Linked DNA regions of Homo sapiens: all the other regions are reported to be linked to region 3. The links are microRNA targets in miRTarBase. Many come from high-throughput screens and were not tested one by one. Region 3 holds a microRNA gene; each other region holds the end of a gene's coding sequence. Distances are between the middles of the regions.

Evidence for each region. Region 3 holds the annotated microRNA hsa-miR-3658 (UUUAAGAAAACACCAUGGAGAU, at 3,349-3,370, shown strand). A microRNA usually pairs through its seed, bases 2 to 8, with sites in the 3' UTR of a target mRNA and lowers its output. Matches are read on the target gene's strand: a 7mer-m8 pairs with bases 2 to 8, a 7mer-A1 pairs with bases 2 to 7 and ends in A, and an 8mer does both.
Region 1: miRTarBase lists HS6ST1 as a target of hsa-miR-3658. Seed matches in the 3' UTR shown: 8mer at 1,680-1,687.
Region 2: miRTarBase lists LEFTY2 as a target of hsa-miR-3658. Seed matches in the 3' UTR shown: 7mer-A1 at 2,802-2,808.
Region 4: the mRNA of ZNF529 is a reported target of hsa-miR-3658. Seed matches in the 3' UTR shown: 7mer-A1 at 4,148-4,154, 7mer-A1 at 3,240-3,246 and 7mer-A1 at 3,222-3,228.
Region 5: miRTarBase lists B3GALNT2 as a target of hsa-miR-3658. Seed matches in the 3' UTR shown: 7mer-m8 at 1,366-1,372 and 7mer-m8 at 3,654-3,660.
Region 6: the mRNA of BTBD7 is a reported target of hsa-miR-3658. Seed matches in the 3' UTR shown: 8mer at 4,824-4,831.

The regions. Positions count from the first base shown.
Region 1 is chr2:128,263,937-128,269,308 of GRCh38, forward strand. HS6ST1 (heparan sulfate 6-O-sulfotransferase 1) reads right to left here. Exons shown (of 2, transcript NM_004807.3): 2 at 1,544-4,934. The coding sequence ends at 4,226. Among named protein-coding and RNA genes, the nearest start is that of HS6ST1, 52 kb to the right of the region's middle.
Region 2 is chr1:225,934,036-225,938,035 of GRCh38, forward strand. LEFTY2 (left-right determination factor 2) reads right to left here. Exons shown (of 4, transcript NM_003240.5): 4 at 2,568-3,769. The coding sequence ends at 3,406. Among named protein-coding and RNA genes, the nearest start is that of LEFTY2, 5.2 kb to the right of the region's middle.
Region 3 is chr1:165,904,575-165,909,946 of GRCh38, forward strand. MIR3658 (microRNA 3658) reads left to right here and starts at 3,347; the gene lies at 3,347-3,402. UCK2 (uridine-cytidine kinase 2) reads left to right here. Exons shown (of 7, transcript NM_012474.5): 6 at 1,347-1,395; 7 at 3,110-5,372. The coding sequence ends at 3,249.
Region 4 is chr19:36,542,617-36,547,988 of GRCh38, forward strand. It overlaps ZNF529 (zinc finger protein 529), which reads right to left. Exons shown (of 5, transcript NM_020951.5): 5 at 997-5,372. The coding sequence ends at 4,250. Among named protein-coding and RNA genes, the nearest start is that of ZNF260, 17 kb to the left of the region's middle.
Region 5 is chr1:235,446,051-235,451,422 of GRCh38, reverse strand. B3GALNT2 (beta-1,3-N-acetylgalactosaminyltransferase 2) reads left to right here. Exons shown (of 12, transcript NM_152490.5): 12 at 1,083-4,233. The coding sequence ends at 1,217. It overlaps TBCE (tubulin folding cofactor E), which reads right to left. Exons shown (of 17, transcript NM_003193.5): 16 at 2,983-3,074; 17 at 1-2,753. The coding sequence ends at 2,661. Among named protein-coding and RNA genes, the nearest start is that of B3GALNT2, 56 kb to the left of the region's middle.
Region 6 is chr14:93,238,822-93,244,062 of GRCh38, reverse strand. It overlaps BTBD7 (BTB domain containing 7), which reads left to right. Exons shown (of 11, transcript NM_001002860.4): 11 at 975-5,241. The coding sequence ends at 1,790. It also overlaps the pseudogene RPL36AP4. Among named protein-coding and RNA genes, the nearest start is that of UBR7, 34 kb to the right of the region's middle.

The sequences.
Region 1 (5,372 bases), not on the chromosome of region 3:
TGGTCCACACCCCAAATAAACCTCCGCATGAAGTGTCCAGGAAGGACTCGGGAGTTCCTCTTGGCGTCTGGCCTCTGCTCCTCCCTTCCGCACTCTACCTAGGCATGAGCAGGTGTTGACGTGGAGTCTGAGACTGGGGTTTTAAGAAGGCAGCTACGTTCTGACTCCTGCCCTACTTGTGCCGTGACCCTCCCAGAAACACCTTGATGACCTTTGTCACTGGGATGGTGGCAGGTAGAAGCCGTGACCCTCCCAGAAACACCCTGGTGACCTTTGTCACTGGGATGGTGGCAGGTATGAGCTGGCAGGTGACCACTATGGCTGGGTTTCCCCAGGGGCTGAGTGGGGAGGCTGGACTTCCCTCATCTGGGGAACAGAGCCACAGGACACCTGGGCTGATGGAAGGTGCCTCACCCGAGGGCCTTCCTACCCAATTTCACCGAATCTGACCACTAGGAAACTGACATCTGTAGTTTTTTTTCTTTTTTTTCTTTTTTTTTTTTTTAGGAATCTTGCTCTGTTGCCCAGGCTGGAGTGCAGTGGCGCAATCTCAGCTCACTGCAAGCTCTGCCTCCCGGGTTCATGCCATTCTCCTGCCTCAGCCTCCTGAGTAGCTGAGGCTACAGGTGCCCGCCACCAAGCCCGGCTAATTTTTTGTATTTTTAGTAGAGACGGGGTTTCACCGCGTTAGCCAGGATGGTCTCGATCTCCTGACCTCGTGATCCGCCCGCCTCAGCCTCCCCAAGTGCTGGGATTACAGGTGTGAGCCACCACGCCCGGCCAACATCAGCAGACCTTTTAAGACAACTGGTCTCTACTAGTCAAATATGTCAATCCTAAGAAAGACGGAAAAAAGAAGGGGTAGCTGGGACCCTCTCCTCCATTCAAGGAGACAGGAGAGGCACATGGGGCACCGTGTGGTCCTGGGGCTACAAAATGCTCTGAAGACATCTCTAGGACAACCAGAAGATCTGGATATTGGAAAATACTGTATTGTTATAAAATCTGGGGGGGGGGCTGGGATAACAGGGTTGAGTTTTGTGGCAGAACGTCCTTAGGAGACACGAGCTGATGGATTTAGGAGTGCAGTATTCTGATGATCACAACCTACTTTCAGATGTTTCAGAAAAGCGCGCGTGTGTGCGTGTATGAGAAAGTGTGGGCACAGGATAAGAGAAGGTGAAAAATTTAGGCCAAGAGCATGTGGGTGTCCATGAACTATTCCTCCACTCTCTTTGTCATTTGAAATCTTTCAAAATTTCCAAAGACAGGGAGGGAAGAGGTTAATGAGAATGTAACTCAGTGGCACCTGCCTCCCTCTCAACTGGTGTCATCTTCCCAAATACTATCACTAATGATTAATAAACGGTTACTCTTTATGGTGATGACAAAGTCCCATTTTTTCTTTCAGAATGCCTTACTTAATGGGACTTTCCTCACTGAGCCTCCTGCACCTGTGCAAAGCACCCCGCCCTTGGGACGTGGTGTGAGACCCCACTGGGAGGGGCAGCTATGCCCGCAGAGACCACAGCACACCCGCCACTCCTTGTCAGGGTTTATTTCATCAGCTAACATTCATTCTCGACCTAGACAAAAACAATTAGATGATTATGACTTGCTTTTCCATCATCAACTCATTTTTTTGTATGAATAACCAAAAAATTTCTTCAACACTTTTTTTTAAGAAGAAGCTATAAATAAATAAAGCTTTAAACAATCCTGGGTTCAAGTTAAACAGTTCCAGTTCCCGAAAAGTTCACAGCCTTGTTTTGTGGGCAGTTCTGCTGTTCCTGGCTTCCCCTTCCAGGAGGGGACGTTTGCAGGTCTGGGGGTCCTGGTGACTAAGCTGTTAGCTCCACTCCCTGCCTGTTTCCGTCCTCACAGCCCTGGGAGGGCCCCGGTGGACAGAGTCCTTACAATTTAGGAGATGCTGCTGGCAAAGGAACTGTTGACCCAAAGCAGGTGGCCTGAATGGGAAGTGCCAGGCTGGACACTTGGGGGCTGAGGGCACTGCCAGCTGCCGCCGCCTCTGGACACCTCAGCCCGGCGCTGGCCCGAGAGGAGACTGCTTTCCAAATGCAGCGAAGAGACTGAGACAAGACCCGTGCTTCCGTGTGAGTTGGGATGCGGGGCATAAGTTAACACATATTCCAATATGTACAAAACAACCTGCGCTCAGGCCCGCGCACCCAGGAAGCCCATGGTGAAGGTGAGGTCACCTTGAGCCAGGCCTCTGGCTGGGTGTCCACCTCCTGCCGGGAAGCCAAGGTGCCCCACGTGGCTTGTGCAAGACCTCACAATCCCCTGAACGTGTTCCTCCTCCTCCAAGGAGTGCACCCACCCCCATGTTGAGTGTCCGAGCAGATTCCCATTGACCCTGACCTCCCTTTGAAAGAACCACACCACTAAATCCCCTTGGCACTCACTTCCTTAGTGTGATGCATCCACCCAGGGAGGTGGCCCTGCGCGGCGCTGGCACGCTGTCCACCCTGCCCTGTTGACCATCCTGTCCTTGGACCCCAAAGTAAAATGGGGCCAGTGTAGGAGACCTGAGGGTGGGGCCCTTATGCCAGACCTCCAGGGGTAGCGACCTCACCTGACCCCAGCTTCGGCTTCCTGTGCTGCAGAAGGCGCTTGCTCCCAAGCCCGTGGTGACCCACGTCTCCACCCCATGGTGTGGCAACTGTGGTGGCTGAGTGGAAGCTGGGGCAGGAGAGAGGACCCCCACCAACCCCAGCCAGGTGGCCTGCAGAGCCCACTGCCCTACCTCTGAGTCAGCCTGCGGCCTGAGCACACCAATCTACTCTCTGGGGGATCCAGGGTGCCTGTGTGGGCCCTCCTAGAGACACCAGCTTGGCCTCCTAGGGCATAAGGAATGGGGACAGGGCACAGGGCACGTGCTTACAACGGATATGCAACATGGCTTTTGGTAGGGCCATTGCAGCCAGTGGGGAAACCTGCGCGGCTGCTGGGAACAGAGCATGGCCAGCCTTTTGCCAGGGGGTGGGGAGCATGGGGAAATGCAAGGAGAGCCAGGGTGGGGAGGGCTGAGTGTCTGTTGTCAGGGAGGCCACCTACAGCTGTTTTGCCAAGGCTAGTTGAGAATCTGAAAGCTCGAGTCCCAGTTCCTGGCCATACAGAGCCACTGTGGTCCGAGGGTACGGCTCCTGGGCAGGGGCTATGGTCCCATGCTCCAGCCGATGGAAGCCTGATGAACTTAATCCGTACGCTGGTGGGAGCAGTGGTATTTGAGCTCTTGAGTATGTGTTTCGGTGATGGGGCTGGGGCAGCCTGCTAGCAAATCCCAGTGGGTCAGAAAGGAGAACAGAGGCAGGGGAGCCCTCGGTCCCCAGCCCTTCCAGTCTGAGCCAGGCCTGCCTGGATGGTCACCTCCAAGGGCCAGCCGCGGACTCACGCACAAGTGGCAGCATCCCTGGCCAAAGCCTCCCCACTCCTGGGCTGCCAGTTGGCCCGAGGAAGGCCGGCAATGCAGCTCGGGCCTACTACCCAAACCCCTCCTTGGTCTGAGGACTGTAGGGAGTGGGTGGGGCCTGAACATCAGCTTTGGCCTCCTGACCCAAAGCATGAAGCAGGACCATGGGCCAGAGAGGGGAGCAGGCTTCCTGGGGGCTGGACTCGAGTCTTCTCTGCCTCAGATGGGGTGGGCCCTGACTTTGAGGGAGCTACAGATGGGTGAGCTGGGGGCTCCCCAGGCCTCGGGGCATTGGGGGCAGCCAGAAGAGGAGGGGCTATGGGATGGCCTGGAGCTGGGGCAGTTGCCAGAAGCTGGTCTCACTCCTAGTAGCCCGGACAGAGGAGCTAAGAGCGAGTGCTGTGTGCATAGTTGGTGAGGGACACACTCCCGGCCTGGCAGGTCCACTTTCCGCTGTCCTCGTCTCTTGCGCAAACCTTCAGTTTTTGCGATAAATCCAAGGAGGCCAGGAGAGCAGCTCCAGGCACAACACCTGCTCTGGAGGCCCTGCCCTGACCATGGCATCCTTCGAGCACGCTTTCCTCTGACCCACTGGGCTGCACCTGTTGATTTCTCAAGCCCCCATCCCTGCCCAGCCCCACTACATCCCTGCTCTGTTTTTTTTCAGGACGCAGCTACCTCTGTGGAGCAGGTTTGGGATGCTCATCCCTTGACAGTCTTGGGTGGACCTGTCGTCTGTCCTGTTTTATCCCCCACACCCCCCAAGAGGCCTCCCCGTGGCCACCACCGCCACTACCACTTCTCAATGATGTGGCTCATGTAGTCCTCGGTGGGCACGCGGCCCGGCTCGTCGGCATCCTCCCGCGGCAGTGCCTCCTTGGCCCGGTGCAGCAGACGCTCCTCGCGGCTCCTCAGGCGCTGCTCCCTGCGCTCCAGCTGCCGCTTGTACTGGTAGCGCTGCTGGAAGAGGTCCTTGGCGTAGTCGTACAGCTGCATGTCCAGGTCGTTGAGCTCCTCGATGCGCCGGATGGTGTCTTCATCCACCTCCACGCCGCCCGCCCGCGTGCTATTGTACTGCATGAAGGGCCGGATGAACTTGAGGTTGAACGTCCGCTCGAACAGGTACTGCGTCTTGCGCTGGAACTCGGTCAGGCCGAAGAAGGCCATGCCCCGCAGGTTCTTCTTGGCGCTCTCGAGCAGCAGCTGGGCCCGCTTGCCCTCGGGGATGAAGGACAGGTTGTAGCAGCCCACCAGGCTCAGGTCGGCCAGCATGCGCACCTGGCGGTTGTTGGCCAGGTTGTACGGGCAGTCCATGAACTCCTGTAGCGTGCAGCCCGACCAGTCCGTGCCCTCGTAGCAGGGCGGCAGCTCCTCAGGCGTGGGCGTGCGCCCATCACACATATGCAACGACGTCTTCCACGTGGCACCCCTCTGCACATGCCGCCACTCGCTCAGGTAGCGGGACACGGGGTCTCGTAGCAGGGTGATGTAGTAGAACTTCCTGCAAGGAGACGGGGAGAGGAGGTGAGGGCTGTGACGCAGCATGAGGGGGGCTACCAGGGCTGCTCTGAGTCAAAGTCCCCACTACAGGAGTTTGGGCTTCGCCTCTAATGCCAACCAACTCCTGCACTTAGCTCTCAGTCGTTTCAAAACCCGGTATCAGAGATGCCAAGGAGCATGCCACGGTCACATGGCTACCCAGGATGACCACCACAGTGCCCTGCAGCGCCTGGCCTGGCTCCTCTGGAGGGACAACCTGACTTTTTCCTGCTGGTGGGTGGAGCCACCAATACCGCATCCAGAGAAGTCGCAGAGCCACAGCCGCCTGAGGCCAGCAGTCTTCACCAGCTGTTTACAGCCTGGGCATGGTGCCACCCAAAGAGCCACTCAGCAGGAACAGAAGGTGGGCAGGGGCCAGCGAGGGTCACCTCCAGTCCCA
Region 2 (4,000 bases), 60 Mb from region 3:
TCACCATGTTGCCCTGGCTGGTCTCAAACTCCTGAGTTCAGCCAATTTGCCACCTCGGCCTCCCAAAGTGCTAGGATTACAGGCATGAGCCACCGCGCCTGGCCTCTTTTTATCCTTATTCTATAAACTTTTTCTATTAAAAAGTTTATTTTTTTTCTAATTTTTAAGTTTTTTGTTAAAAAATAAAACACAAACACACACAGTAGCCTAGGCCTACACAGGGTCAGGATCAGCAATATCACTGTCTTCCACCTCCACATCTTGTCCCAGTAGAAGGTCTTCAGGGGCAATAACATATACGGAGCTGTCATCTCTTATGATAACAATGCCTTCTTCTGGATTCCTCCTGAAGGAACCGCCTGAGCCTGTTTTACAGTTAACTTTTTTTTTTTAATAAGTAGAACGAGTACTCTAAAATAATAAAAAGTATAGTAAATACATAACAGTAACAGTCACTTATCAAGTATTATATACTATATATAATTACATGTGCTGTGCTTTATTTTATTTATTTTTTGAGATGGAGTCTCACTCTGTTACCCAGACTGGAGTGCAGTGGTGTGATATCAGCTCACTGCAACCTCCGTCTCCAGGGTTCAAGTGATTCTTCTCCTGTCTCATCCTCCTGAGTAACTGGGACTACAGGCACCCGCCACCACGCCTGACTAGTTTCTGTTTTTTTAGTAGAGAAGGGGTTTTACTATATTGGTCAGGCTGGCCTCGAACTCCTGACTCCAGGTGATCCACCCTCCTCAGCCTCCCACAGTGCTAGGATTACAGGCGTGAGCCACCATGCCCGGCCTAGCATGTGCTATGTTTTTATACAACTGACAGCACAGTAAGTGTGTTTATATCAGCATCACCACAAACACATGAGTAATGGGTTGTGCTAGGACATTATAATGACTATGATGTCACTAGACCATAGGGATTTTTCAGCTCCATTGTAATCTTATGGGACCACCATTGTGTATGTGGTCTGTCATTGACCGAACTATCATTTTGCGGTATATGACTGTATAACTTTCTCCATAGACAAGCATAAGGAAACCCAGCTCAATGGGAAAGCTAAATGGAGGGGAATTGCATAAGACAGCTCCCAAATGACATTTTAACCTGATGCCTGTGTCATCAGCAGAGCAGCTTATTGGGGACTGGCATAGGAAGAAGTTTATAACCCATTCTGTGGGATAGAGATTCAACATGCTCGCATTACCTCAGGCTGTTTCTTCATCTAAAAAATAGGATTAATAATACCCACCTTATGGGATAGCTGCAAGAATTAAGTGACATGTGACAATGCCTAGTCCAGTTCCCTGGTTCATAGTGAATGATAAGAAATGTTAGCTCGCTTACCACACTATTGTCAACCCCCATTGCCCATCACCACTATTGTAGGGGTTACAGTGCTTTCTAAAGAGGAGGTAGGCCGGGCACCGTGGCTCACGCCTGTAATCCCAGCACTTTGGGAAACTGAGGCGGGCGGATCACTTGAGGTCAGGAGTTCAAGACCAGCCTGGCCAAATAGCAAAACCCCGTCTCTACTAAAAGATGCAAAAATTAGGCTGGGCACAGTGGCTTATGCCTGTAATCCCAGCATTTTGGGAGGCCAAGGCGGTCGGATCACCTGAAATCAGGAGTTCGAAACCAGCCGGGCCAACATGGTGAAACCCAGTCTCTACTAAAAAAATACCAAGGGCCGGGCACGGTGGCTCACACCTGTAATCCCAGCACTTTGGGAGGCCGAGGCAGGTGAATCACGAGATCAGGAGTTCGAGACCAGCCTGGCCAACATGGGGAAACCCCATCTCTACTAAAAATACAAAAAATTAGCCGGGCGTGGTGGTGGGCGCCTGTAATCCCAGCTACTTGGGAGGCTGAGGCAGGAGAATCGCTTGAACCTGGGAGGCAGAGGTTGCAGTGAGCTGAGATCACGCCACTGCACTTCCGCCCAGGTGACAGTGCGAGACTCATCTCAACAACAACAACAACAAAACCCAAAAAATTAGCTGGCCATGGTGGTGGTCGCCTATAGTCCCAGCTACTAGGGAGCCTGAGGCAGGAGAATTGCTTGAACCCAGGAGGAGGAGGTTGCAGTGAACCGAGATCATGCCACTGCACTACAGCCTGGGCAACAGAGTGAGACTCCGTCTCAAAAAAAAAAAAAAATTAGCTGGGCATGGTGGCACATGCCTGTAATTCGGGAGGCTGAGGCGTGAGAATTGCTTAAACCTGGGAGGGAGGCGGAGTTTGCGGTGAGCCATGATCGTGCCACTGCATTCCAGCCTGGGTGACAGAGCCACACTCTGTCTCAAAAAAAAAAAAATGAGGCTGCAGTGCTTGCTTTGGCAACACATAAACTAAAGAGGAGACATCCGTGAGTGATTGTTTAATATTTTTGGAATGAGAGTTGTGTGAGAAAATAGAAATATCATAAATGAAAGCCTCATCTATATAAATTTAACTATTATAGTCTTGCGCCCTAGAGGTTGGGGGTCCTTTCTTCAGATCATTGTGTTGCTCTCATTCCCCATTATTGCTCCTGGAAATTAAAAACAGACACAGAGTGAAACATCATTTTTTATTTCTTCTGAGTATCTACATTCAATTGCTTTAGCTAAATTAACAAAAAACATGCAAATACATGTGGTTTCTGGTGACAAGTTCTCTAAGACAGTGTGGGAAATGACCTAAATATGCACGGGCAAGGCTCAGTCTCCAGAGGAGTGGGCAGGGGTAGGTAGGGGCTGTCTGATCCCCAGGGCAATGAAGTTCTTAGAGCTGAAGCCCAGCTCCTCCTTTTTAAGAGGAAATGACGAGCCAAAGCCTTCTGCGTTTGTTAGAGATCCTAGCTTGTGGCCCTGTCAGAACCAGAATCCAGGTATCCCAATTCCCTGTCCACTGCCCCCAGCCTGAAGCCCTTCATCCTTCCTCTTAGCACCCTCTCAGGGGAACAGGGGCCTAGGTATGTTTACAAAAGTCCAGAATGGGTCAGTATTTGGGGGAAATAGAGATTTGAAGGTTTTAATTCCTCATATAACACAGCAATTCAGTTCTGTTTCCCCAGTTCTAATCATAGGGTATTATTGTTCCAGACTCAGTGAAGAATTTGCCAGAGAACAGAAACTCCCAGCTGAAAATGTGTGCATTGCTCAGCTGTATCTTGTAATCAGCATGCCAGCATTTCCTACTAGAGCTCAGCATCTGAGCTGCATTATTTACTCACGTAAGTGCTTAGGATGGGTGATGGACGGGAAAGACAGGAAATGGAAGGACACAGGGCGAAGGTCACACAGGAGCACTAAATTGGGATGGAGTAACTTGCTAAGTATAAAGTTAAGACCTACATTAAGACCACCTCTATGCACACGTTCAGTTAGAGGGCTCAATGGATACACCAGGCGCCTATGGCTGGAGCCTCCTTGGCACGAGCGCCCCATCCGAGGCACAGCTGCACTTCTGCACCCTCATGTTGGGCAGGCTGACCACCTGGGGCCTGGTCCTGCCTCCCTCCTTGATGCTGACGATCATGGGCAGCGAGGCAGTCTCCGAGGCGATACACTGTCGCGGCCCCAGAAATGGCCAATTGAAGGCCAGGGCCTCCGGGGGCTGCTGGCAGGTGCCCACACACTCGTAAGCCAGGAAGCCCGGGGGCTCCAGCACCCAGTTCTTGGCCCACTTCATCCCCTGCAGGTCAATGTACATCTCCTGGCGGCAGCAGCGGGTGCCCTCGGTCATTGGTGCTTCAGGGTCACAGTCGCCCTGAGCTCTGTGTGGGCAAGGAGAGCAGGGTCAGAGGTCATCTGGGAGGCTGAAGTCAGAAGGCCTGGGGCACAGCTTAGTGGGCACCTGGGAGGGAGGTTTATGATCCAGCTCTCACTATGTTCTAAAAGCTGGATATTTGTGAGAAGATGAATAAACATATCTGAAACATAAATAATAAATCAGCTACTATTAATTAAAGGTCTCCTAATAGGCCAGACAATGAACTAGGTACTTC
Region 3 (5,372 bases):
AAAATTCTGCAGACGTTTTCTGGGTTATTTCTGCTTGCTTCCACTGTCCAGCCACTCTTTGCTCAGGGAAGATCAGCTCATTCCCCTGTAAGCCAGGAACTTGGACCTGATAAATGTCTGCTCAGTTCAAGTTGGGTTTGGGGCTGACACCGTTGCCTTTCAGCAATCCTAGGGCAGAGGCTGCACAGAGTAAGATGCCCACATGCTTGAGGTGTGGTTTATGTGTTCTTATGCTAGACTTAGTTTGTATGCCAGGATGCAGTTACTTGTAGAATGGTCTACAAAATCTCAGTAAATTTGGACCAACAAAAAAGAAAAAGAAAAAAGAAATATGCCTCTTTGTGGCCTGACTTTCTTTCTTTAAAAATTGGGTAATAATAGAACCTATGAACTGGTCATCAGTGAAGAATACTTTTTCTGGTTTTACCCTGTGCTAGGAGTGAACAGTGTCATGTTTCAGACTATGTGTAAAAGTCCAAGGTGAACCAGTCCCCTGGAAAGTTTGGGTTTTTCTAGTTCATATTTGTCCTAGTGGAATAGAGGCAATTAAGTGTTTGGCTTCAAAGACCATGTTCTCTGCATAGGTCATAAGCTGAAACAGTGTTCAGCGTTAGAAATGAGAACTTGGTTGGGTGCAGTGGCTCACGCCTGTAATCCTGGGACTTTGGGAGGCCCAGGTGGGTGGATCGCTTGAGCCCAGGAGTTTGAGACCAGCCTGGGCAACATGGCGATACCCCCTCTCTATAAAAAATAACAAAAATTAGCTGGGTGTGGTGGCGGGTGCCTGTAGTCCCAGCTACTCAGGAGGCTGAGGTGGGATGATCTCCCCAACTCAGGAAGTCAAGGCTGCAGTGAGCTGTGATGATGCCGCTGCACTCCAGCCTGGGTGACAGAGTGAGACGCTGTCTTAAAAAAAAAAGAGAGAGTGAGAGAGAATTTGAATAAAAGCTAAATTCTTGTAATGTAGATAAAGTGGATAAAAATCCATGGTAGATAGTTATCAATCGAATTATGAACTGGTTTTGGATTAACCACTCAGTCTGGACCATTTTCCCTCACTGATGCATGAAAGTCTTCAATCCTTCTTTCTCATTTTCCTCATTCCCTGCTTATCTTCTTTCATTCACATTTCAGCTAAACAAGGCACTTCCTTAGGTTTCCCCAAATTTCTATTAATAGATGCATTCACTGTGAAGTTGTAAACAATATTATATTTGAAGCCTTAAAAGGTGCTCTTCTGGGCTCGCTAGTATGAATGCTGCCCTTTCCCCATATTCCCTTGGAGAGGGTCTCGGGCCAGTTGTCTCTTAACTGTATTAATGCATATTAACTGTCTTTCTCCACAGACAAAGAAGTATGCTGATGTGATCATCCCTAGAGGTGCAGATAATCTGGGTGAGTCCCTGCAGAGTGTCATCCTGGAGTATAATGTCTGCCCTTTGTCAGTCATAATTTGGGGCAGGATGTGGTGACCCTACAGGGCTCTGCAGACATGGCTGCCCTGCTTGTCTGTGATTGTGAGCCAGCAGAACCTTTCCACCTACACGTCTGGCCTCAGGAACAGGTCCCTGGGTGTAGGCACCCATGTGTTACGGGGACAGACATGCACTTGTGCTTCTCTGGCAGAATAGAGGGCTGTAGATTACCTTTTACTATCACTTCCCAATGATGACACTTGGGTACTTTGCTTCTGAGGCCACCTTTTAGCAAAAGCAGATTCCCTCCTTGATCTAATTTAGAATGACCTGCCATCACGGTAGCCCTTTCTAAAGGGAGCTGGTTGCTACCATTATTGTACTTATTTTTCATTTTATTTTATTTTACTTTAGAGACGAGGTCTTGCTCTGTCACCAAGATGGAAGTGCAGTAGCACAGTCACAGCTCATTTGCAGCCTCCAATTCCTGGGCCCAGCCTCCCGGTAGCTGGGACTACAGGCTTGCACCACCACGGTCCACTAATTTTAAAAAAGTGTTTTTGTAGAGATGGTTTCATTATGTTGCCTAAGCTGGTCTAAAACTCCTACCTCAAGCGACCCTTCCATCTCAGCCTCCCAAAGTGTTAGGATTACAGGCGTGAGCCATAGCACCTGGCCCCATTGTTTTATTTATTTTTTTGGCCTGTCTAGGAAGTATGAATGTCTCTGGACTAGGCGTAGTGTGGCAGAGTTGATCTGTAAAATAGGACCTGGTTTCTTCATTCTCTTTAGAATTTATTTAATTTTCCCTCCATTTAAAAAGATTATTTCTTGAGCTGTTTGGGAGTAAGTTATAGCAATAAATATTTAACCCTGTATTTTTTAAGAACAAAGGCATTCTTATTCATCAGCAGAATGCAGTCATTAAATTCAAGACATTTACCATTGATATGACCTCTTTTAACCTGGAGATGTTCCCTATCTTTTGTTTTTTAAGACATTTTTGAGGCGTACAGGCCCATTGTTTGGTAGAATGGTCCTCAATTTGGGTTTGTCTTTTATTTTCTTATGATTGGTTTCATGAGCTTATACAGTCTGAAGGAATTATCCCAGGAGAGATGTGGCGTGGTCCTCTTTGTGTATCACATCAGAAAGCATTTGATGTGTATTCCATTTTTGGTGATGTTAAATTGACCTCTTGGTTGAGGTATATAATTTATTTCTAATGCTAATAAAAGATAGCTCTCTGCATTATATTTTTTGGAGGGAAAGAGGGCCTTCCATAGGGATGCTCTGTCTTAGGATGGAAAACTGGAAGGTTCCCTGGTGGAAAGGTCTCATAGCTAATTGACGTGTCAGAACCATGGCTGGTTACCACGTCTGCAGACTTTGGCCCGAGTGCTTCATCCAGTGGTGACTGATCATCTCCTGATAAGAAGCCCATTCATTAAGGGCTTACTCTGTGGTAGGCATTGTCTATCTTACTCCTTAGAGCCCTCCTGTGAAGGAGGAGGATCATATTAGCTCAGGCAGAGCCACTGGGAAGTTGGATGACTTGCCTGCAAGTGGCAGAGCCACTTCCCTGGAAGTCTTTCTACTGTGGTTCCTGCATGCCCTTCCCCCAGACAGACTCCCACACTCACCCCTGCACCCATGCCTGCACCCGTAACGCTCTGCTGGTCTCTGCCCCACAGTGGCCATCAACCTCATCGTGCAGCACATCCAGGACATCCTGAATGGAGGGCCCTCCAAACGGCAGACCAATGGCTGTCTCAACGGCTACACCCCTTCACGCAAGAGGCAGGCATCGGAGTCCAGCAGCAGGCCGCATTGACCCGTCTCCATCGGACCCCAGCCCCTATCTCCAAGAGACAGAGGAGGGGTCAGGAGGCACTGCTCATCTGTACATACTGTTTCCTATGACATTACTGTATTTAAGAAAACACCATGGAGATGAAATGCCTTTGATTTTTTTTTTCTTTTTGTACTTTGGAACGACAAAATGAAACAGAACTTGACCCTGAGCTTAAATAACAAAACTGTGCCAACTACTACTGGTGATGCCTAATTATGAATCCAACGTGTAACCAGTTATAAATACATATATATATAAAAAAGGATCTATTTTTGTGTAAATGTACAAATACTGTAAAGCTGTTTGCCATAAGTATTTTGCAGGAGGGTCTGTACTTGAGTGTTTTAGGACTGGAGCTGGAATTTCACCAAGGGGAAATTGCCTGTTGTGTCCCAGGGTGGGGAGGCTCGGGCATCTGTGAGAGACAGGGAGGGTGGCTAAGGTCCAGTTGCTTTTGAGTGCCCCGTGGAACTTGATGGGAATGGGGTTGGAAAACCTTGATTGCCTCCTCTGTCACATGCCACTCTTGGAGCTGGAGCTTAGTGATATGTCAATGAGAGATACTCTTGTCTTTTTTTTTTTTCTTTTCTTTTTTTTTTTTGAGTTGAAATTAGGTAAAATCTCAACTCAAAAATCAAACTCAGGGAAGAGGCCCACTGAGGAGAACAAGTCTTCTGCATTTTCTTCCTGCCCTGCTCCCACCTTCTCGCCTCTGGCTGCTTGGATAGCTTGGTGACTCCTTCCTCACCCTCCTGCTTCTCTGTCTCTCCAAGAAGCCAGAGCTGCCTCTTTCCTTCCCTGGAAGAGATTTTATGGGATCGCTTCCTGATAGAAGATGGGAAGGAGAGGGCAGAACTTTGCCTGCTGTCATATCTGAAGAATCACTGGTTCTTTCTGCATCCCAGGGGCGTAACTGATCTGACTCCTTGGGCTTTTTCCTGTATTGTGGAATATAGAGTGGACCATTGCAGGCTGGGTGTGGGTGAGGGCTTCGGTAACTGATGCCGGCAGCAGCGCCTCATGGAGTGGCAGGGGAGCTCTGTCTGTGGAGGGGTAGTAGTTTCCGCTTCCTGGAGGTTTGCAGTGAGGTGAGGAGAGTAACTTTGGTCAGGGATTCTCACTAGCAGCGTCATGGCCAGGATGCTTTACTTATTTGCAATACCACCTAGTGGATATGGCAACTGCAGAGCATAAAAGGGGCTCGGAAAAGCAGTTTTTACAAAGTATTTAAAAGGAGAGTATTTAAATCATAGGTACCTAAGTTGGAGCCTGAGGTTGAAATATTTGGGGTGGAGATTTCTAGCTTTCCTGAGAGCTGCTGCTTGGTGGTAGTGTTTTCTCTGGAAGTACAGATTCCTGACATTCTGGGTGGAGGGGAGCCCAAGTGAGCCTGAAGGAGTTCTGATTATAGAGTCCCGAGCCTCAGTTTCTGACTGCAGAAGAGCCAGAGATGTTCATTTCATTGTTGACCACCCTAGTGCTTGGTGGACTGTGCCCTTAGCTATCCCACTGTGGCTGCCATTGCCAGAAACATTTTGGAGAACCTTTTCTTCCCATTGCTCTCAGAGCCTGTTCGAGCCATTCAGGTAAATTGGTCTCCATTATTACCTGGTCACACCAGATTTTCCCCCAGACTCAGCACCATCCAGTCTGATTCCCCGTTTCTGGGCTCAGTTTGACTCTAAATCTGTTTTGCTATTTTAAAAAGTCAAACCTGGTCCCCAGCAGAGCTTGCCACCCGGAGACTTTCAGGAGACCGTGCAGGCTCTGAAGGGAGCTCCCAGTCACAGCAGCCGCCTACTTGGAGCAAGGGAAGGCTCCCAAGATGCCTCCTTTGAAAGCCGGTGCTCACCAAGATCAGTTCAGGATCAATCATTATCCTTGTAGTCATGCCTTGATCAGTTCTGAGATGAAGCAGGGAATGCAGGCCTGGGTTAGTATCCTGAGGACACAGGGCCCCTGGCCTTGATGGCACTGGGCTGTGCTCAGGTGAAGCCCACCCGTGTCTGGGAGAGCCTTGGCTTTTCAGTGGGCAGCATGCTCAACTTTACTTGAAGCTCCCAGGTGCCAAACCATTTAGTGCCTTGGCTGTTTATCCCACT
Region 4 (5,372 bases), not on the chromosome of region 3:
TTGAAAGTGAGAGGAGTGGACAAAGATTCCATGCAAATAGTTAAGCAAAAGAGAGGTAGGGTGGCTATGCTAGTATCAAACAAAATAGACTTTAAGTCAAAAATTTTTACAAGGGACAAAAAAGACACATTATATATTGATAAAACGGTCAATGCATCAAAAGATATAATAGTTATAAACACAAACACACCAAACAGCCCCAAAAGAAGTGAAGCAAACACTACAAAAAGTTGCAGGCAAAAAAAAAAAGTTCTACAACAGTTGGAGTCTTCAAAACTTCACATTCAATAATGGATGGAACATCTACACAGAAGATCAAGAAGGAAATAGAAAACTGGAAGATTATCAACTAACAACACCTAACATGTACACAACACTCTACCCCAAAACAGCAAAATACACATTTCCTCATTTTTCTCAGTATGGTTAAGAATTTCCCAAATCTTCACATTTTAGTTTCTTATTGCTTAAGAATTCCTCCTTCAATTCATCTCTCTCCTTTCCTGTTTTATATGCGCAATAAAGGGAACCCAAGCCACAAGTTCAATAATTAGAAATCTCCGCTACTATTCAGTTTTCATTGGTTGGAAGCGCTACCTTCCACAAAACACTAGAACATGATTCAGCCAAGTTCCTTGCTACAATAACCTGTTTCTCATTTCTGAGACTAAAACATTATGGCCTTAAATGTCCATATTTCTACCAACATTTTGTTCATGATTGTTTCTTTAACATGAATACCGTTCATGACAGGATTCTTTAAAATGGAAGCTTTCTCTCCAGTGGTTCTATTTTTTTTTTTTGTCCTCCCCAGAATCATTTTTACATCCATATTTCTAGCATCTACCCTCAGCATTCTTCTAGCCTATTTGCCCACCACCCAGTTCCAAAGCTTGGACTTGCACATTTTTAGTTTTTTGTTATAGCAGCACCCCACTTCTCAGTACCAACAACTGTCTTAGTTTGCTTAGGGTGTTGTAAGAAAATGCCATAGACTGTGAGGCTTAAATACAGATATTTATTTTCTCACTGTTCTAATTAAAATAGGGATTAGCAGGTTTAATTCCTGGTAAGGGCTCTCTTGGCTTCTCCTTGTGTCCTCATGTGGACTTTCCTTTGTGTGTGAGCATAGGAAGAGACGTCTCTCCTTCCTCTTCTCATAAGATCACCATTTGTATCAAATTAGAATCACATTCTTATGTCCTCATTGCCCTATGTCCAAATACAATCACATTGCAGGTTAAGGGGTGAATTCTGGCAAGTTGGAGTTGGGGTGGGGGGTGGCGCAGGGGTTATATAACTCCAGAAATCTCAGTCACAGACTCTTTACCTGTCCCTAACATACATATATTAGTTGCCATTAAATTGAATTCCTTCAAGGACATATAAAATTTAATGGTGCAGGACAGCAGAAAACAGGATGAGACTGCAATATCCTATCCTATTGAATATGAGAATAAAGCTCCTATGCAGGCTTAGAGAAAAGTCAGAAAGAATAAAGGGGCAAATGAAAATGGAAAGAATGGTGAAGTTTTATGTTTTTGAGTAAAAATAGTAAAAACCAAACAGTAATACCACCAATAATAATTATATTATGGTTTCGAGTAAGTGTGAAATGCCATAAGTTCATTACGAAGTTAAGTGAAAAATGTTAATATGATAAAAATATAGCTGTAACTACAAACAAGGAAAACATAATAAGGACACATTTTATTCATTAATTTATTATTTGTTAATGACTTCAAAAAGTAAAAGCCAAGACACAAGGATATTTTGTTTCTCTCACTAATTTTAATGTCTGTATACAAGGTTTAGATATTTAGTTTTAATTTGTTTAAGCTGGAAGGAAAAAAACACACACAAAGAAATATAGGACAAGTTCTCCTGGAGAACTATACCCAAAAGAGGAACATTAGCACTGATGGTAACTCAGGATAAAAAGGGAGAATGAGATCCAAGAGTAAATTAGCTGTGTTGTTACATAAATAGAATTTAGTTAGAAATAGAGCTACTACTCTATTTCAAAGATATGAAATAGCAAATATCCTGACAAAAAGGTTAACATACTCTTGTTCTTACTGTGTAGGACATGAAACAACAACCAATTACATATCTTTTAAAACTACTTGAATAAGCAATACTTACATAAAACATAGCTCAATATATCAGATGAGAAAATGGCTTAATACTGGTAATCATTCACACCGTTATAGAGTACATAAATTCTGGGAAAGACATCAGTTTCAAAAATTAAAATGTAATGAATGACAGTGACATAAATTTATCTGAAAATAATAGTAAAATTTTCTTATAAAAATCAAATAACCGGACAGGCGTGGTGGCTCATGCCTGTAATCCCAGCACTTTGGGAGGCCGAGGCAGGGGGATCACAAGGTCAGGAAATCGAGACTGTCTTGGCCAACGTGGTGAAACTCCATATCTACTAAAATACAATTAGCTGGGCATGGTGGCGCATGCCTGTAATCCCAGCTACTTGGCAGGCTGAGGCAGGGGAATCGCTTGAACCTGGGAGGTGGAGGTTGCAGTGATCTGAGATGACACCACTGCACTCCGGCCTGGTGACAGAGCAAGGCTCTATCTCAAAATAAATAAATAAATCCAATAACCAGGCTGGGTGCGGTGGCTCATGCCTGTAATCCCAGCACTTTGGGAGGCTGAGGCGGGTGGATCACCTGAGGTCGGGAGTTTGAGACCAGACTGACCAACACGGAGATATCCCGTCTCTACTAAAAATATAAAATTAGCCGGTCATGGTGGCGCATGCCTGTAATCCCAGCTAATCAGGAGGCTGAGCAGGAGAATAGCCTGAACCTGGGAGGCAGAGGTTGAGGTGAGCCAAGACTGCGCCACTGCACTCCAGCCTAGGCAACAAGAGCAAAACTCTGTCTAAAAAAAAAGAAAAAAAATCCAATAACCAGTGGCTCGTGATCTCATTGACTGCATAACCAAGTCAGCAGTCCTAAGAGAGAGATGATTTTGGAGTTAAATGAGATTAGTTAAACCAAAGAAGGTCTGCTGATTGTTGAAATGCCCAAACCTAGTAAGTCAACTCTGAGAGGGAATAAAAAGAAAAATAATGATAATAGATTAAAAAAACAATTGAAGCCATGTTAATATATAGTTGTAAATTCTCTTAATGTAAGTTCAGTGGTCATTTTTTCTCCCCTTTTAAAGGTGTTTGACAAATTTTAGAGTGATACTTTAAGAGAATGATAAATTTTAAGAGACTTACTGGGTGAGTAGTTTTATCAAATATTTAAAAGAGTTCTCTTCATTTGGATCCTGGTTGGTATAGCCTGCAGGTAAAAAGACTGCTTAAAGGAACTGGTTATATTCCAATATAACACACATACACACTATATATATATAGTGCCCAGTATATAGTGTATATACTATATATACATATATTGTGTGTGTGTGTGTGTATATATATATATATATATAGTGTGTTATGTAGTGCATGTGTGGGCATATATAGTATACATCACACACATATACATCACACACTATATACACACATATAGTATATGTGATATGTATAGTATACATCACACATACACTATATACACTATATGTGTATATACACTATATGTATATAGTGTGTGTGTGTGTGTGTGTGTGTTATGGTGGAATATAACCAGTTCCTATGTATGTGTTTTTTTGGGGGGAATATGTTGTATCAAAATAAAGTAGAAATTTAAAGAGAAGTCAACAATTGGATGAAAATGGAAAGGAGATCACACTTCTATCATTTAAAACAAAACAAAACAACATTACACAAAATGATGAGCTGTAAGACTGTAAAAATACATTGTATCTGACTAGGAGTGCTAACTCTGTGGAGGAAAATAAGTAAGTATAGATATCACAAGCAAAGAATTACAATGCAGAAAAGATATTGAAGTAATATTACAATTAAAAAACTGAATAGTCAAAAGAGCAATAATACAAACATCAAAAGCTATTGTAAACAAAACATGCCAGGATGAGAAACTCATGAAAAAAACTTTTTAACATAAAAAGGAGAAATATTTGGCAACATCTAACAAAGCTATAAGTATATATCAGCTATGACTAAGCAATTCTACGTCTACATACAGAATGACCATGAAGTCTAAAAACAGACTTTAAGAGAGGGAGATACTGAATTGCCTTGATTACCTATTAAATCCATCCACAGTATTTTCCTGTGAAAATCAGAAATAAAAAACCACTTTATACATTTATTTCAGTCAAATGATTTCTCACCAGTGTAAATTTTCGGTTGGCAAGTAAGATGCCCAACAACACTAAAGGAATTCCCACACTCCTTACATTCATAGGGTTTATCATCAGTATGAATGCGCTGATGTTTGGTAAAGGATGAACTATGTCTAAAGGCCTTCCCACATGCCTTGCATTCATAGGGTTTTTCTCCAGTATGAATTCTCTGATGTTCTGTAAGGGCTGAACTATGTCTAAAGGCCTTCCCACATACCTTACATTCATAAGGTTTCTCACCACTATGAATTCTTTGATGTTGAATAAGGGCTGACGTAAGTCTAAAGAACTTTCCACACTCCTTACATTCATAAGGTTTTTGACCACTGTGAATTCTTTCATGTCGAGTAAGTTCACTACCTACTCCAAATGCTTTCTCACATTCTTTACATTTATAGGGTTTTTCACCAGTATGAATCCTCTGATGTCTAGTCAGGGATGAACTATTTCTAAAGACCTTTCCACATGCTTTGCATTCATAGGGTTTCTTACCAGTATGAATTCTCTGATGACGAGCAAGTTCTCTACATACTCCAAAAGCCTTCCCACATTCCTTACATGCATAAGGTTTCTCACCAGTGTGAATTCTCTGATGTTCAATGAGCTGTGAACTAATTCTAAAAACCTTCTCACAGTGCATACATTTGTAGGGTTTCTCACCAGTATGAATTCTCTGATGTTCGGTAAGCTGTGAATGAAATCTGAAGTCCTTGCCACATTCCATACATTTGTAAGTTTTCTCATCAGTATGGATTTTCTGATGTCGAGTAAGTTGTGCATGCACTCTAAAGGATTTCCCACAGAATGAGCATTCAAAGTGTTTCTCACCATCATGAACTCTTTGAAGTGGAGTAACTTTTCCAACTCTTTCAAAGGTCCTTCTGTATTCCTTACATTTATAGAACTTCTCATTATGAATTTTCTGGTATACATTAAAGTCTTTATAAAAACTACATGTATTCCCATATTCCATATATTTACAAGGTTTCACACCAGTATGAATATTCAGTTGTAACATACTGGAGTTATCTATCCCAAAGGTTTTCCAACATTGATTACATTCATAGTTTTTTCCACCAGTATGTATTTTC
Region 5 (5,372 bases), 70 Mb from region 3:
CTACAGAGAGGATTTACATATTTACATTTTTTTCTGCCATGCATCTAGGAATACTACCATCTATGAATACTTCAGATTTTTGGCTTGGAACTGTTGGGCTTACACAGACTGACTACCAGCCCCAGACCTACCTAAGTGCAAGCTGTGGGTAGGCACTGAGGGGAGAGAGACTCCTTTCCATCCCACTGAGGGGCAAGACTGAGACAGACAAGCTGAGTGTGTTTTGTTTTATCACCCCTGAGGCTGTGGCCCCTCAGAGATCCTAGCTCTGTGTCAGTCTCCCATTAGTCTCCTGACCCTGGGCTTGGCCTTCCAAACCCAAGGATCAGCAGCTGCCTTCAAGGCACAGGCTGACTCAGTGCTTTCTCCTACCCTGTTTCTTCTTTGATCACGGAGTTGAGCCATGCTTTATAAAGGTTTTTAATTTTATCCAACATTTTTGTGTTGTCAAAACATTGAATGAGTTTCTCTCTGTGTTCTGCTACATTGCTGGAAATAGAAACCAATTCACGTAGCTAGGAAATAGTCTAGTGGTTAAGAACTTGAGCTTGGGAGTCTTTAATCCCTCCTCTTCATTTACCAGCCCTGTGACCTGGAACAAGTTTTTTAACTCTTCGTTTGTTCCTCAATTGTTAAGAGGGAAATAGTTCCTACCTCACAGCATTACTGTGAGATTTAAGTGAGATATTTACAAAGCACTTGGTACAGTCCCTGCAATATTGTAAGCATTCCATCAGAATAATAGCTGTTACTAATACTGCCATAGACACACCTTTACTAGCAAACATGAAACTCACTTGTGGTTTCTAAAATCGTTCATTACGGAATGGCATTTGTTGACTAACTCTTCATCCACACACCGCCTTGTTTCTGTATTCCACAGCCACAGGACTGTGGGACCTGGTGCTTTCCCAAATCAGGAGGTGCCACCCCCAAACCTCACCAGTTGTTCCACACACGGAGTTATCCTTGAAATAATTTCAGCATCATTAGAATACATAAAAGCTGTCTACGTGCATACTTTCTGATGCTCTTAAAACAGTTTCACCACTCTCAGATCGGCTTTGGTTGTTTCTCAACAGGACAGTCTGTGGCTGTGTGAGAAGACCTGTGAGACAGGAATGCTGTCTTCTCCTCAGTATTCTCCGTGGGAACTGACGGAACTGTGGAAACTGAAGGAACGGTGCGGTGATCCTTGTCGATGTCAAGCAAGATAACAGGGACTTGAATTAGCAGAGTCTAAAATCAGGGCAGGCAAACGATAATCTGAGTGCAAGTCTGAGGAGTCCCAGGGTTTAGCAGTAGACTGTATGGTCTTTCAAGAGAGTTCCAGACTGGCACTTTCACCCAGAACCAATGCGGTGTTTCTTAATGTTTGCACAAATTTCCTTAAAAATCAACTTGTACTGTAGCATAAGAAAAGTTTTTATTTATCTATTGGAAGATTATCAGAAAAATACCAAGTTATTTTATAAAAGAAAAAATATTTCTAAATCCTGATGCATTGTGGCTAATTAGTAATTCACCATTACCTATAGTTTTTGGTTAAAACTTGGCCTAGTTCAGAAATCTGTAGTAGTAACTGAGAGTTTGAATTTCAACCTGGATTGCAGGATAGCTCTGTAGAGCTAATTAGGATAATTATCAGACAAAAAGGAACTCACAGGAATGCTGTGTGATCATGTGATCACATATTTGAGCAGTGGTCACTTATACCAAAGTTTGGGGTTTCTGGAAATAATGTCAGATTTTGTGGATCTCTGAAGTGGGCAACTTGAACTAACTTGAAGAGGAACCAATATGATTCTCAGTTCTGAACCTTGGTTTTAAAGAAGTTCATTTATATGGTAGACTAATACCCAAATTTTCTTTCTGCCATCTAACATAAATCCTGAAGGTCACAGTTTAGTACTCATAGTTTTTAAATGCTAAAGTTGTGTGAGTATGAATAAAAGCAAATACCTCTCAGGGTTTTAGTGCCATCGGGAAGGATATTTCTAAATTTTGTTGACATTTTGAAAGAATTAGTTTTGCTTTCCTCCTATCATTGCCTAATGTTTACCTAATATGAGTACATTTCAATCAAAGCTGGTTATCACAGAAGAAGATATACTCAGCTTAGGTATAATTGTAGGGAAAAGCATGTGATTAATTTAAGTACTCTTAGAAATAGTGCAACTGAGAAGACAGATAATAGCATATTGTTATACATAGTAGAGGATGTCTCCCCAAGTTTAAGGGACATTTCCCAAAATGACCAACCAAATCATTTCTAGTAACCCTTTAAAATAGTAGTTTCAATAGAGAATTCCATTAAAACTAGTCTTATGACAGATATTAACTGTGTTCAGATTTTATTAGGCTAGCTAGTTTCTTTCTATTTAATATTTAAATCTTATCATGAAATGCAGTGATGAGCTGTAAAAATAAATATGAAATAAGATCAGAAAATCATTAGTAGGTTCAAAGCCTTTATTATTGCTATTATGTATAAGCCTAGAAATGGTCACTTCCCAACAAAAAATACATCCCTTGTTATACTTAGGACAAGTTGTAAACCCCCTTTGTTTTGACAGTAGAATTGTTCCAGTGAATCATTTATTTCCGGTGAACCCCAGACACGATAAGCAGTGTGGTCTTTAAATTTTATTAGTTGGTTGTCACCATCGCACTAATAGACAATCTCCATTTTCCACAGAATAAAACTGTAATGACTTTAGGTCATTTTCCAGCTCGATTTCTCTGCCCGGCTTCTAAAATTAGAACGAAGGTGGGGAAGGATGTGATTAAGACAGATCCGATAAAGCATGCTACACATACTCTTCCCCCACCCCGTCCCCAGGCAGTAGCTTACCCTTAAAATCAAACAAACAGACCCATGGTCTCCATTTAGAATCAAACTGTTGCTATCTAGAGACAGTTTAATGTCATAATACGAGGACTAAGCTTGACTTTGACTTTGTATTTTGCTGGGCAACTTACTTTGGGACTTTCATAGGACAACAGAAGGTCTGACACAGGAACTTTGAGAAGACGTGACAGCAATCCCTTCACCTTTTGAATTGTCATGGAGCCTATCAAAAGACAAGAAAAGTCCATTCGTTCTCTCAAATGACAGTTACCTGTAAAACTAGCTCATGTGATGAGACCACAGTATCATTGCAATGATAGCTGTATCTGTCTTTTTTTTTTTTTTTTTTTTGAGACTGACTTACTTACTTACTTAAGTAAGTCTTGCTCTGTCGCCCAGGCTGGAGTGCAATGGTGTAATCTCGGCTCACTGCAACCTCCGCTTCCCGGGTTCAAACAATTCTCCTGCCTCAGCCTCCTGAGTAGCTGGTGCCCATCACCACACCCAGCTAACTTTTGTATTTTTAGTAGAGACGGGGTTTCACCATGTTGGCCAGGCTGGTCTTGAACTCCTGACCTCGTGATCCGCCCGCCCTGGCCCCCCAAAGTGCTGGGATTACAAGCATGAGCCCAGCGCCTGGCTGTATCTTTCATTTTACCCAAGTCACTTTACCCAAGTAAGTAATTAGGGGAAAGCCTGAGTCTTGTACCACCTGTTCATTTGGGGAACTGTGGGAAACGGAGCCAACGGACCTAAGTGCCCTTTGACAGTGAGTTTCATACCATTTCAGTAGTGTATTTCTTTCTTAATCTGAATAAACCAGAATGATACTCTCAGCACAGAAGAATAAAGGGAGCGAGTCATTAACGTTTTCTTTTTAAACCTTTATGATGACTTCCTTATGAATTACTGAACGAACACTGGAATGGGACTCAGGTATCCTGAGGACATCTCTCAACTCTGGCCTTAGTTCCCCCTCTGTAAAATTAGGGTGCCAACTAAATGATCTACAAGGTCCCTTCCAGCGCCGCCATTCTGTAATTACATCATGTGTAACTGTATTAAACATACACAAGTGACTGCCAGGCATGGGAATGTAACTTCCGAGTAAATGCTTTGGTTTGTTCAGAATACACTATGAACTTCTTTCCAAAGACGGGTTGTGGTAAATAGTGGATATTTTGATTATAAGAAATAGAGTTTCCTTGAAGCTTTAGCTGGAGATACAGCAATAGTGTGGTGTTCCTACAAATATCACAGTGTATTCAAACATATTTTTCTATCAAAAATCATTTTTGTAAAAGCTGTGTGTTTTTATCCAACTTGTGATAATAAATGTTCTTTATTTTAGAATAAAAACTGGCCTTTTTGTATGTATTGAATACAGTTAATAGAATTTATAATTTTAATTAACAATTTGCTCTTTCATGTGTGAATATGTGATAGTCTAGTCCTTTCAAAAGATTGAGACGGACTGGCTTTCATTGTTTGAAGGCTGGTGAGAGAAGGGGTTACCTGCTGCACACCAGTGGGGAGTGACATACTCCTAACACATGCCAGAAACAAAAAGTTTGGTCATAAAACAGTTCTAATAAGAAATCTGCCTGGCCTGCTCACACCTGTAACCCCAGCACTTTGGGAGGCAGAGGGATCAGAGCCCAGGAATTTGAGACCAGCCTGGGCAACATGAGGATACCCCATCTCTACAAAAAATAAAAAATTAGCCAAGCATAGCGATGTACGCCTCTAGTCCCAGCTACTTGGGAGGATCACTTGAGCCCAGGAGGTCAAGGCTACAGTGAGCCATGATCGCGCCACTGTACTCCATCCAGCCTGGGTAACAAAGTGAGAACCTGTCTCAAAAAAAAAAAAAAAACCTGCCTACTCATACCGGTTCTATAGAAGAAAGTAGCAATCTCTATGTAATAAATAGCATTACCATTTTTAATATAGTAACATGACTGTCTTAACATTCAGAAAATATGGAAATAGCTGATTATTTCTTTTTACCTGCCTATGACCAGTGTTAAAAATTTGAGAGGTATACCTCTAGGCCTTTTTTTTTCTGTGTTCATATAAGGATGTATAGGTTTTAAGCCAGGCGCAGTGGCTCACGCCTGTAATCCCAACACTTTGGGAGGCCGAGGCGGGCGGATCATCTGAGGTCAGGAGTTTGAGACCAGCCTGGCCAACATGGAGAAACCCCGTCTCTACTAAAAATACAAAAATTAGCCAGGCATGGTGGCGGGCACCTGTTATCCCAGCTACTTGGGAAGCTGAGGCCGGGAGAGTTGCTTGAACCCGGAAGGCAGAGTTTGCAGTGAGCCGAGATCATGCCACTGCACTCTAGCCTGGGTGACAGAATGAGACTCCGTCTCAAAAAAAAAAGGATGTATAGGTTTTATAATATATTGACGTACTACATTTGTATTTCTTTATGACATGATGGTATAGCTTTTCATGCCAATTCCATGCCATGTCCTCTAGCCATACACTGCCCAGTATGGCAGCCACATGTGGT
Region 6 (5,241 bases), not on the chromosome of region 3:
GTGTGTGCCACACTGTGACAGAAAGTCCGATGGGTTTTAGGAAGGTTCACCATGTTTGCAGGGGCACTGTTAGCACAGAAAGCCTTTCTCGCCTTCTTAGACCTCTCTACCTCCCCTCCCTGCTTCCCCCACCCCAGAATGGCGAAGGTTGGTCATGTTTGATAAACCAGATTCCCATTCTGTTGGGCCAGGCCCTCAGTTCTACAATTACAAAAGTTCTACTACTTTATATTTTAAATAAAACTCCCTTTAAAGGTAATTTATTTGTCTGTTCATTGCAGTCTTGACTATAATAATGAAAAATGGTAAACAACCTAGATGTCCAATAGTAGCAGAATGATTAAGTAATGGTTCATTGATGCAGTAGAACGTCACATAATAATTTAAAATGGTGATCTCAAAGATTTAGTGACAGATTATATAGGTACTAAATTTCATCAGTATATATGCAAAGGAGAAAAGCATAAAAAGAAAGACCTCAAAATGCTAACAGTGGTATCTCTGTTCAAAAGGTTGGAGTGATTTTTTTGCCTTTATAGCTTTCTGTATTTTTATAATTCTTACAAATTCAGCCAGGAGCGGTGGCTCACGCCTGTAATCCCAGCACTTTAGGAGGCCGAGGTGAGCGGATCACGAGGTCAGGAGATCGAGACCATCCTGGCTAACACATTGAAACCCCGTCTCCACTAAAAATACAAAAAATTAGCTGGGCGTGGTGGCGGGCACCTGTAATCCCAGCTAGTCAGGAGGCTGAGGCAGGAGAATCACTTGAACCCGGGAGGCAGAGGTTACAGTAAGCTGAGATCGCACCACTGCACTCCAGCCCGGGCGACAGAGCGAGACTCTGTCTCAAAAAAAAAAACAAAAACAGAATGTGTTAATTTTATAATTGGGAAACAAAATCAGTGAACATCATTTCTACAGAGGATGGGTCCTTTTTTTAACCCTCCCACCATTTTTGTCTCTGTCTGCAGCGAACACAACCTGTGCTGAATGATCTGATGCCAGACATCGCGGTGGGTGTGTCCACACTGTCACTCAAGGACAGGAGGCTTCCAGAGCTTGCTGTAGACACAGAATTAAGCCAGTCAGTTTCTGAAGCAGGACCAGGGCCTCCCCAGCATCTGTCGTGTATTCCACAGAGACATACACACACTTCTCGGAAAAAACACACACTAGAGCAAAAAACAGACACCAGAGAAAATCCACAGGAATATCCGGATTTCTATGACTTCTCAAATGCTGCTTGCAGACCTTCTACTCCTGCTCTCAGCAGACGCACCCCTTCCCCTTCGCAAGGTGGATATTTTGGTCCCGATCTGTACAGCCACAATAAGGCATCACCAAGTGGCTTAAAGTCAGCCTACCTACCTGGTCAGACGTCTCCTAAAAAACAGGAAGAAGCTAGGAGAGAATATCCACTTTCCCCTGACGGGCATCTACACAGACAAAAGAATGAGCCGATACACCTGGATGTCGTTGAGCAACCTCCCCAGCGGTCAGACTTTCCTTTGGCAGCCCCAGAAAATGCTAGTACCGGTCCAGCCCATGTCAGGGGACGAACTGCAGTAGAAACTGACTTGACTTTTGGGCTGACTCCTAACAGACCTTCACTTTCTGCATGTAGCTCTGAAGCTCCCGAAGAGAGATCCGGTAGAAGACTGGCAGACAGTGAGTCCCTGGGCCATGGAGCTCAGAGAAATACAGATTTGGAAAGGGAAGATTCAATAAGCAGAGGAAGGAGGTCACCAAGCAAGCCGGACTTCCTCTACAAAAAGTCTGCCCTCTGAGAGCAACCTCCAAGTCGTCTGTGCCTGAGATGTGAAACATCCCATTTTATGATGTAACCCAACAACTTACAGACCAGTTCATCAATGCCAGCTGATAACTCGGTTTCACATGATTTTGTTCTAGTTTTTGTGTATATATGTGTTTATTAGACATGGCATGCTAAGAAGGTTTTGTTTTTTTTTTTTAATGTTGCATCTGTCTAATTTGTCTTTGAACAATTATGTCGGGAGGCATTTTTAAGAACAAGCAGGCTGGCACTTTTTATTTCTCTTTACAAATGATGGAATTTTTTTGCACTTGTACATTTATTTTCTCTGTATTGATTTTATATCAGTATGTTAAACTTTATTGCCACATTTAAAGGACTGTATTTTCATACTTTTTTGCATTTTACCTTTCATCTACCAATCCATGTGCATTGGATTGCACACTAAGATGTATTTTCTTACGAAATAGTTCTGTGTTTATTTTTTAATTATAGAAATTCCAAAGAACAGCACATCAGAATGCTCCTCTCTTTTCAGTAATTGTTTTAGTTCAGAGATCTTCCCGCTCAGCCTCCATAAATCTAATGTCATTTTTTTTTTAATAAGTCCTAGGAGCTGGGCTTCATTCCTCCAGCGGGAGTCCAGTCAGGGTCCTGAAGTTTGCTGGTTCAGGAAAGAACAGGAAAGAGAAAAGCCTTCTGTGCCCAGGCTAAAGCTGTTACATTTCCACAGTGTGGATGCAGTCAGAATCCCTGCACATTCTGGTCATAAGGATTAGAGTCACCAGATGAGGCTCTAAACAGATCGCATCCCTTGGAATTAGAAAGCAGTGGAGACCGGGCGCAGTGACTCACACCTGTGATCGGCACTTCGGAAGGCCGAGGCGGGCAGATCACTGAAGCTCAGGAGTTCAAGACCAGCCTGGGCAACATGGCGAAACTCCATTTCTATAAAAAATACAAAAAAAAAAAAATCTAGCCAGGCGTGGTGGTGCGTGCCTGTAGTCCCAGCTACTTGGGGGGCTGAGGTGGCAGGATCGCTTGAGCCTGGGAGGTTGAGACTGCAGTGAGCCAAGATTGCACCACTGTGCTCCCACCTGGGCAACAGTGAGACCCTGTCTCAAAAAAAAAAAAAAAGGCAGTGGAAATAGAGAAGTAACTTAAAGGTCACACTGACAGAATTTCTGGTTCTGAGCGTCAACTCTCCAGCTGTGATGGCGGAACTGACTGCTTGCTGCCTTTAATTGTCTTGCTCTCTATGGGAAAAAAACAAAAGGGCTTCAGTCTCATGGATGTTATTTGGTGTTTGTAAAGATACGTTTTCTTTTAAACGATTTTCAAAATATGTCTAAATTTTGGTGTTGTGTAATGCATAATGCTTTCTCACCAACAGAAAAAAGGAAAAAAATTGTTTTCAGTTAAACACTACATGTCCTACTTGAACTCCACTGGGACGCTGGTTTGGCATTTACTAAACCACTGAGCACATGGGGTCTTTCAGGATCCTCTCCCTTGGAAGGGCAATGTGTGAGCTAAGGACTGTTTTTTTTCTTACTCTCCAATGTAAATATATGAGTATTTGAGTTTTTAAATCACTTCAACATTATTTGAGCATTTACTTTGTATTTTTACAAACACATAAACACACAGCCGTAGCACTTAGAAGAAAAGAGGCTTTCTAAGCATTCCTTCCTCTGCAGGATATTTGGGATCCTCTTTTCTATGTATGTATATATATAAAAAACTATGAATCACTCACACTCACTCGAAAACTATGCAGGGCTAGGGAGCGTTTATGAGCTACCGGGTAAATGAATTACATGCACTTTGAAGTAAATAGGTTTTCTATTGGGTGTCAACAACGCTGATTTCTCCCAAAACTATAGTTTCTCTTACGGTCTTTTCCTCCTTTACCCTGTGGATATACACTCAGGAATAATCTGACATTTTAGAAAAGCCGAACAGTAGATAGTCTCCAAGATGGGAAACATGTCGTGTGTCTGCACGCCCCGGCAAACTGCCGCCACTCGTTCTGCTGCCTGACTGGTTAGCTGCTGTGCGGGTGCGCTCGGTGACACTGGTGGTGGTGCACGCTCCCGAGCTCCCAGAGTTAACACTAATCTGCAGGTCGGCTGTGCATCGCATTCGAGGCTCCTTTTTTAAAGAGAAAAGCATAGGCCTCTGTTCTCATTTGTAAGAAGTTTGACTCATAATAGAAGACGGTGTCTTTTGAAGCCCAGTCTCTGTCTGTCTTCAGAAACAAAAGTGAATGCCGTCATGTTCCTTGATGTGTGTTTCTGCCACATATGTATGTTGACATGTTCATGTACTGCGCCGGTACTGCAAGTAAGACTCAACAGACCTAATTTGGATGGGGAGAAAAACTCTCATCCCTGACCCTTCCCCCCCCGCAAATGTTAGACCAGAGCTGTTGATCCCACACATTCATTTTTCTGAAAATTCATGAACTATTCTCTCATATCCCTGAAATATAAAAGTAAGTGGCCACTATTCCTAAGATTATTTAGTTTATAAAGTTTGCTTTTAATCATACAATAGCTTACCTGGCTAAAACTTTGCGTATAAAGGGAAAACTTGCTTTAATCTGTGGGATTGCGGACCGATGCGACTTGCAGAAGGTAAACAGGCGTGGGTTTTGTGTGCGTTAGGTTAGGTGTTAGTGGACTTTTAATGTATCTTGTGAAGTATGGTTACTAGGGTAGGTTCAAGAGCTACATGCCTCTGGCTTTTGAACCCATCTATTAAATCTTTTTTAATGCTGTACTAAGATAAATGTGAAGTCTGAGTAAGGTTGCTCTCAGAAAAAAAAAAAAAGCATATATATATATAAAATAAAATTTAGGCCATGGGAACTGGCATTTTACTTGGTATAGGAATTTAATGAGAACCAAATCACAAAAATACCAGATCTCCTTTTGAGATCGTGGACAATCAGGCCTTTGGACAATCACCGCTTCCAGTGCCCGCTGTGCGTTGAGGTTAGAGACCTACCGTTTACACGCTAGAGCCGAGAGGACGTTCAAGTTTCTTAAAGATGCTGTTGGTCTTTTTTCTTATGTTATTGTTTTAGTTTTGTGATTTTGATGAATAATTGAAGTTCAGAGTCACCCGTGGCTCCTAAGGAAAAAACAGCATCATGAAAGGCAAAAAGTATTTGAAACGTAATTGTTTCAATTTTCCACGCCCGTTCTCACATGCCCCCTTTAGCTTTATTTCTGGGAACATGTCACTAGACCTCAGCTAGCCTGACACCGCAATAACCCGTTAGGCTTTGAGGCTTTTCAGTGAATTCTTGACATTTAAATCTTCTTATAGAATTCTTTATGAAGCCTTAACTAATTCTTGTTTTTGCTTCCTCAGAAACTTTTTATTGCATCTGCCATCCTTCATTGGATTTTTGTTTTGGTTTGTTGTTGCCATTCTAGCAATGAGCTTAGTCCTTG